3 separate regions of the Homo sapiens genome follow, and all the other regions are linked to region 1. The links come from fine-mapping of genetic effects on gene expression. A gene starts in region 1. Each other region holds a variant in brackets. All regions are shown on one strand. Distances are between the middles of the regions.

Evidence for each region.
Region 2: its variant is fine-mapped to the expression of ZNF200 in whole blood (TOPMed, PIP above 0.99).
Region 3: its variant is fine-mapped to the expression of ZNF200 in breast (GTEx, PIP 0.95).

Annotation. Positions count from the first base shown.
Region 1 is chr16:3,234,015-3,236,772 of GRCh38, forward strand. ZNF200 (zinc finger protein 200) reads right to left here and starts at 1,144. Exons shown (of 5, transcript NM_198088.3): 1 at 973-1,144. RefSeq lists enhancers at 1,183-1,242, 1,253-1,462.
Region 2 is chr16:3,262,160-3,264,917 of GRCh38, forward strand. LINC00921 (long intergenic non-protein coding RNA 921) reads left to right here and starts at 1,609. Exons shown (of 2, transcript NR_033904.1): 1 at 1,609-2,758. RefSeq lists enhancers at 1,670-1,829, 2,270-2,369, 2,520-2,589 and a silencer at 1,850-2,029. The variant G/C (reference allele first, on the strand shown) is at 1,567.
Region 3 is chr16:3,322,111-3,324,868 of GRCh38, forward strand. It overlaps a transcript of ZNF75A not described here, a transcript of OR2C1 not described here and the pseudogene RPL7L1P19. Among named protein-coding and RNA genes, the nearest start is that of ZNF75A, 18 kb to the left of the region's middle. The variant A/G (reference allele first, on the strand shown) is at 1,241.

The sequences.
Region 1 (2,758 bases):
ATCCTGAGAATGAAAAACAGAGACTGTGCAAACCTCAAGTCCAAAGGGAAGGGAGTAAGGGTGGAGCGGAGAAGGCCAAGGTCCAGCCTCCTGAGAAATACAAAGTGTGGCCAGGTACCGGTGGCTCACACCTGTAATCCCAGCACTTTGGAAGGCCCTGGCGGGTGGATCGCTTGAGTCCAGGAGTTCAAGACCAGCCTGGGCAACACAGCAAGACACCGACTCCATAAAAAAAAAAAAAATTAGCTGGGCGTGGCGACACAAGCCTGTGGTCCCAGCTACTGGGGAGCTGGGAGGATTGCTTGTGCCCAGGAGGTCGAGGCTGCAGTGAACTGTGATCGCGCCACTGCACTGCAGTCTGAGCGACAAAGCAAGACCCTGACTCTAAAAAAAGAAAGGAAAAGAGAAAGGAAAGAAGGAGGAAGGGAATCAGGGAAGAGAAAGAAAATAAAAGGAAAAAGAAAGAAAAGACAGAAAGAAAGACGGTGTGTAAAACCCACCAGGAATAGGTTAAATCAGGCTTGGAGAAAGAGCAATGGGCTAGAAGACAGGAAATCTGGGGTCAATACCGAGGACATCTGCCTAAAAGCAGGTTGGTCACTGAATCTGGCCATACTGTACCCCTCGAACCGAAGCTCCCTCCGGTGCCCTTTGGGCGGGGAGGCGGTTGGTGACTCTCCCGGGGAGCAGATGCAAGGCCGAGGAGGTGTCCACACACCGCCTGCCGACTCCTCTCCGCCGTCAAAGCTCTGCTGAGAGCGGCAGGCGACATCCCACTAAGGACCGCCGGGCCAGGCTCACTCTGGGGCCTCTTCCGCTGGTCAAGGAACACCTTTACCGTAAAGCTCAGCGTGCGCCCCTGCCTGAGGCGCTCACCAGGCTCCCTACCCGGCCTTGCTCCCTCAGCAACGGACACGCTCCGCTCCCCAGAGGCGGCCTCAGCCTGGTTCCCGCCCTCACGGAGCCCCTCACCTCTCGGGGCCTCTGCAGCCCCTGAGCGTTTGCTGGGGACGGCTCAGAGACTCAGGCTCCGGGAGAGATAGAAAAACTAGGCGCGAGCGGTCGAGCCCTCCCCTCGCCCTTCCGAGTGCCCTCACAGGTCGCCGGCGACTATTCGTTCGCGCCGCCGCCAGTTGAGGAGAACGGCAGGGACTCGGTGCCTTCTGGGAAGTCGGGCGCTCTGCGGCTGTGACGTCACAACCGGTGCCTTGTTTCCGGTGCAGAAGCCTGGTCTCCCCGTTCGGAGCCGGCAGTCTGCGCTTGAGACGTTAAGACTTGAGACAGGCCAGAGGAGCTCTCAGGGCCGGAGGGAGGCCAGGACGGCTGTAGCCTCTCTGTGGTTCTGCCTGGAAGACGGAAGGCAGGTGGTTGGCTCTAGTCATCCACGACGGGCTGGCACCTCTCCAGCTGCGGCCAGTCTAACCCCAGGGCCTGCTGGGAAATGTAGTTCGAATGCAAACAACCAATGGACGACCGTCAGGCGCGGCGGTTGGGGCGGGGCAGGCCCCCCCACCGCCCCACCCCCCGCCCACCCAGCGCCCGCGCTCCCCCCACCCCCCACCCCGCCACCCCCCTACCCCGCCACTCCCCCACCGCCCTACTCTCCCCACCCCCCACCCCCCTACTCTCCCCACCCCCCACCCCCCACCCCGCCACCCCCCACGGCGCCACCCCCCAACCCCCACCCCCCTACTCTCCCCACCCCCCTACTCTCCCCACCCCCCTACTCTCCCCACCCCCTACTCTCCCCACCCCCCTACTCTCCCCACCCCCCCACCCCCTACTCTCCCCACCCCCCTACTCTCCCCACCCCCCTACTCTCCCCACCCCCCCACCCCCTACCCTCCCCACCCCCCCACCCCCCTACCCTCCCCACCCCCCTACCCTCCCCACCCCCCTACCCTCCCCACCCCCCTACCCCGAGGCTTAAAGGAAGCAAGCTATCTCTCCGACCGGAAAATCAAGACGCCTCCGCGGTTTCCGCCTTTTACTGCGGTTCTCCAGTAAAAAGACTGCGGAGGCGGACAGGGTGTGGCCGCCATGGGACTCCGCCCCCGCTCTGGTGACTCCCATAGGTTAGAGATGGGGCACCGACATTGCCCACTCCAGCTTGCTAACTTCTACACTGCTGTCCGCACCGGCCGTCTTGTTTTTAAAGACATCTTAATTGCCCTTCTCCTACTGTCTCGGTTTCCTTTCTCAATTTCAGCTTCCTACGGAGGCCGAACAGAGTTTTGTGTTTGTGCGTTGTATCCACACTCGGTTCGTTCCCCAGTGACGCACTGATCAGGGTTCGGACAACTTGTGGGCAGGGATGGCCTTATTTCTCGATGTAATACCAGCCTCCAGAAAGTTGACAAAAGTAAAAATATAAATGAATGCCTCTTCTTAAAGTTAATTATACCTGACTAATGGCTGACGATGGCTTAAAATATGTTACAAAGAAACGAGTATGAAAACTGTGTGGCACCAAGACATTCTAGAAAAATAAGGAATATCTGCCTTTTCAGATCAAAATTTACTAAAAAGCCTCCGTTAATCAAAGCATTATGGTTTGAATTATGAGGCAAAACAGATAACTGAGATGTCTTGAAGTAAAATATAAACCTGTGTGATTGTATTTTTTAAGAACTTTTTCTTGACTCTGTTAACAAACAAGAAATAGACTGGAAGATAATTGTAAAGATTAGCTACACAAAAGATTATACATTCCTAAGACAAAATGAACCCCTGCCAACTGACAAAAAGCAAAGGCAAT
Region 2 (2,758 bases), 28 kb after region 1:
AAAGTTTGAGCAGAGCAGTGACATAATTGGAGTTACGCTTTAAAAGAAACATTCTGGGCCGGGCGCGGTGGCTCACACATATAATCCAGCACTTTGGGAAGCCAAGGAAGGTGGATCACCTGAGGTCAGAAGTTCGAGATAAGCCTGGCCAACATGGTGAAAGCCCGTCTCTACTGAAAATACAAAAATTTGCTGAGTGTGGTGGTGATGTGCGCGTAGTCCCAGCTACTCTGGAGGCTGAGGTGAATCACCTGAACCTGGGAGGCGGAGGTTGCAGTGACCTGTGATCGCACCACTGTACTCTGGCCTGGGTGAAAGAGTGAGACTGTTTCAAAAAAAGAAAGAAAAGAAAAGAGAACACTCTGGCTTCCATAAGAGACAAGAGATGAGAAAGGTGGAAACAGAGAGGAGAAAGCAATCTATTGTCACAATGCAGGAAAGCGACTGCAGGGCCCTGAACCACTGTGGAGGCAGAAGGGTCAGATTCTGGGTGATTCTGAAAGCAGGGCTGACATGATAAGGGTAGACTGGATACTGGCGGGTGTGAAGATGCATCTAAGATACCTGTTTCTGGCCAGATTTTACAAAGGGCCCTTGTTGCTACCTTAAGGAGTTAGTGTTGAATCCTGCAGCAGCTAAGAGCTTCTGCAGGATCTCCCTCTCAACTTGGACCAACCCACCTGCCGATCCCAGCCCAGATCAATGAGATCTGCTGCCCAGTCCCCTACGCAGATAACACTAATTGTAACTGATCTTTCTGAGGGCACCTCCTGAGCAGCTTGGAAACGGAGGGAGAGGAGAGGAAGCCAGCTTCCCAAAGTGGGGTGTGGCAGGTGGCCTTAACCCTGCTGAAGGGCTGCAGTCATGGGGCTCTGAATAGATCCCCACACCACTCACCAATGAGCTTCATTTGGAAGGCGGTAACGTTAAACAAGAGGGTTTGTAAAAAATAAAGGCCTACACACATAATTTTTTCTGATTATTAAATCTAGGTGGAGAGTACGTGAGTATTCATGTTACTCTCTCAACTTTCTTGTGCTTAAAAATCTTAAAATAAAAACTTTAATACGCTCTGTCCTACCAATATTTATAGGAACCTGACTAGCAGCCAGGCTTTGGACACGCAATCCCCGGCCACCAAAGGGCTGACAGGCTAGTGAAAGGGGCAGAAAAATAACAAAACTGTGTCTGGAAGGCAGCTACTCCCTTTTTTTGTTTGTTTGTTTTTTGAGACGCAGTCTCACTCTGTCGCCCATGCTGGAGTGCAGTGGCGCGATCTTAGCTCACTACATGTGCCTCCGGGGTTCAAGCGATTCTCCTGCCTCAGCCTCCTGAGTAGCTGGGACTACAGGCGCGCGCCACCACGCCCGGCTAATTTTTGTATTTTTTAGTAGAGACAGGGTTTCACCATATTGGTCAGGCTGGTCTCGAACTCCTGACCTCGCGATCCGACCGCCTCGGCCTCCCAAAGTGGTGGGATTACAGGCGTGAGCCACCGCGCCCGGCCCTTTGTTTTCTTACCAACTAAGCAGCAGCACTGACACTGTTTCCTTTGAGGTTCCGTTT[G/C]CTGAATCCTGCCCTCTAAGGTGCTCCGCCCTTCCACTCCCCGCCCCGTGCTGCTGTCATTCCCACGCCTCACCCTGTTTTGCAACTTCTTGTTTATGAGCCTGGAAGCCACGAAGTGGTGGGAAATACGAGATTCAAATATCTGGTGGCCGTGTGACGTGAGTAAATTACTCGATTTTTCTCAGTTTCCATTTCCTATCAAATGGGTTGTTCTGGGAATTCGGGGAAGTAACAGTGCCGGGAACCGCGGGAGGAACCGCCAGCTGCGTCCTCGGACGTCCCCAAAGCCCAGGGCGGCGACTGGCACGACTGTCAGGGGCGCGTCTGTTAAGAGGACAGGGGGTCCCGCCCCGGCACAGCCGTCTCCTCCAGGACCCCTCCCGCCGACGCCCCACGGACCCCACGCCCGAGCGGAGACCGGCGCGAGTCCGGGGTCTCCGGTCCGGCAGCCCCTCCCTGGCCCGGCGCCCCAAAGGGAAGCGGCCTGGGGGAGGAGACGTGTGGAAAGAGCGGCAGAAGATAAAGAGGAAGTAGCGGTAGAGAATAAAAAGGAACTGTCCGCAGTGTGCCCGGACGCGGGGAGGCGCTGGGGTCAAGCGAGACCCGACCTGCACGCAATTCCCGCCGGGGTCCCGGCCTGCCTGCGGGAGGGAAAGGACCCAGGGCGGCTTCTGCCAAAAGTGCGGCTTCTGCCGAAAGTGCGTCTTCTGCCGAGGGGCCCACATAAGGCGCGACAGACACTCCAGCCCGACCCCGACGCCCCGCCCTCACGCATGCACATGCGCGGAACACTCCCAGAAACACATCTCCCAGAGCGCCCCGGGAGCACGCGAGCCAATTGGAGGGCGGATTAGCGGGGGCCCACGTCTCCCAGAGGTCTCCGAGTCGCGGCTCTGTTGGTCTGATTGGCAGCCGCAACAGCCTATAGCTGCTTTTCGCCGGAGGGGCCACGCGCCGTTTGCCGGGACTGAGCCGCTGTTGTCGCTGGTATCCCGGGAGCAGCGCCGGCAAGTGGAGTCGTCGTATTCCGGGCGGCCCGCGGCCCACGGGGATGGGACGTCCCGGGGCTGTGCTGACCCCAAAACCCTTCCACACTTTATTAGCCTGTCGCCCTTCTTTCATGTTTACAGCAAATATTTTCCGAGTGCCTAATGTGTCCCACTTACTGTGCCACGTGCGAGGGTGCACGTGT
Region 3 (2,758 bases), 88 kb after region 1:
AGCTCTCCCCACATTCTCTGTGGACTGAATTCTCTCCTATGTAGACTCTCTGAAGTCCCCTCAAGTGGGAAACAAAGTTTTGCCCATACTTCACGTTTCTACTGTTTGTCCCAGTAGAAATCCACCCAAACAAAAAGCATACTTTTGTTTCTGAATCTTTTCTACACCTGTCACTTTTTCTTGTGTGGGTTCACTGGGGACCGAGATGAGGGCACTGTTTGAAACATCAACCAAATTTGCTACATGCCTAGGTTTCCTTCATGTATTAATCCTCCACTGGGCAATGGTAGTTGGGCTGTACTGAAATGCCTTCTTCAGTCGAGCGTCTGTAAGGCTTTTCTCCTGTACGATTCACCCAAATCTGATAATGCGTGTACTTTGCCTAAAGCAGTTCGCCTAGTCTGAATCCCTCCTGTGAAAGGAATTAAGCAAGCTACCTTTTGCATTGCATTTCAGATTTAAGAAAACTATCTGAATCACTTTTCATTTCTGCCACAGTTCAGATAATGAATCTTGAGTTGCACCAATCTTAGCGCTGACATTAAAAATCAAGCTTTACAGTGTTTGGATATGATGCACCTTTTAGGAGAAACTAAGAAAGCTTACTGTTGAAATTTTTTTTTTTGACAAGTTAACATTTATTTTTGGGCCTTTCTTCCTATGTGTATTTCAAGTCTTTTTCAAAACAAGGACCCAGGAATCTCCAGATTCAATTATGTCCCTGGGCTTGGTCGACTGCTCCCGGAGTCTTAGGAAGCCTTGTACAAATGCTAGAGTTACTCATTCACCAACATTAAACCCTAGGATAGAAGATTCAACAAAGCAGGACTACTTCCGCCGACAAGGAGGCAGCCAATGTAGAAAATGCTGGAATTTTTCCTTGGAACTGGACTGTGATGAGAGGTACTTGCCATGAACCTAAGCTACTGTCTTTTTTTTTAACCCTTCCTTTCCAGTTTTTGAAGATAAAGCAGGAAATAGTCTTTGAAGATACTTGATAAAAAAAATCTCAAAAAAACAAAAACACATGCTTCCACTTCATTGATAAAAATTTACTGCAGTTTGGCACCTGGGTCTAGTTCAGCTGGCAGATGAGCTGATTGATGCATTCACCCCAATAGCCAGATGTGCCCATCTCCTTGAGGAAGCCCACTGTATTTTTGGTAGCATGATGGACCACTGAGAGGTGGAAAGGGCAAAAGAACCATGAGATCTCCTGGAAATGCTTCACTGGGAGGCA[A/G]TTTCATGAATGAGGTCTTCCAAGCAAATGACACCAAACTTCCCCAGGTGCTCCTCAATCACTGTGTTGTCTGTCAGAGGGATGGTGTTCTTATTGACCTTGGCTTGTCCATGTTTCAGAATGAATTCCCGGACAGACTTCAGATTTGGAAATCCCCAGATCACATAAGGTTCCACTATACGCAGCATTTTTAGGTTCTGGGGGGTGACTTTTACAAAGACACCACTAAAAATTTTCTTAAGATGAAGTCTTGCAATGGCTGTCTGCACCAGTAGACTCACGCCAACAATCCTTTTGCTGCATACAACAAAGGCCAAGGAATGTTTATCTGGCAATTCCAAGGCACGAGGTTTCATTTCTAGTCATCTGAGACACACCTTGTCACATTTCTGCCACCAGGAATTATGTAGGAATGATTCCAGTCCCTTAAACCTGAGCCCTTTTCCTTTCCGCTGCTCCTTCTTTGCCAAAAGTGCCTGCTTTGTCTGAGTGGCTTTGAGGACTTGATAAGCCTTCCTCTTTTTCAGGAGATTTTCTGGAACCAAAGGGATTTTTCTTTGCTTTTGCTCTGCCATCTTTCTAGTGTTGTAGCTGCTGATCCTTACTGTTGAATTTTTAAAACCAATAGGTATACTTCCAACATAATTTTCACACTAAGCATTTGCCCATGATTTGTACAATCAACTGAATGATTTCAAAGCATTTGAAACAATCAAAAAGTAAAAGATCTTTACTGTTCACAAAGACAAAATTAAATATTTGTAGCATTAGAAAAATTCCTAAAATATTTAGTAGCATAGGGAACAACAGCTTGTTACACAGAAGAGTTAGGAAAAAAAATTTTTTATTTTATTTTTTGGAGACAGAGCCTCACTCTATCCCCCAGGCTGGAGTGCAGTTGCCCGGTCTCGGCTCACTGCAACCTCCTCCCCAGTTCAAGCAATTCTCGGGCCTCATGCTTCCCAAGTAGCTGGCACCACAGGTGTGCACCACCACACCTGGCTAATTTTTTGTGTTTTAATAGAGATAGGGTTTCAACGTGTTTCCCAGGCTGGTCTCGAACTCCTGAGCTCAGGCAATTCACCTGCATAGCAGAGTTAATAGATGGGCAAAGGCCATTGAGTTGAAGAAAGCACATTATGATGCATCAGCCTCATGTTCTGGGACCAAATCAAAGTACTCACTCTACTGAATTGACCAAGCAACCATGAGAAAAATATCTAACTAAACTGCTCAGTGTTGTAATGGATTTCTCTCTACGTATGTTTGTTTTATAAATATGTTAGAGATGGGAGTCTTGATATGTTGCCCAGGCTGGCCTCGAACTCCTGGACTCAAGTGATCCTCCTGCCTAAACCTCCCCAAATCTGGGACTGCAGGTGCATGCCATCACACCTAGCTCCTACACACACACACACGTATATATATGTACATACATACATATACATACTTACATATACATATATATGCTTACCTCAAATATATTGCAGGTTTGGTTCCAGGCCCATGCAATAACAT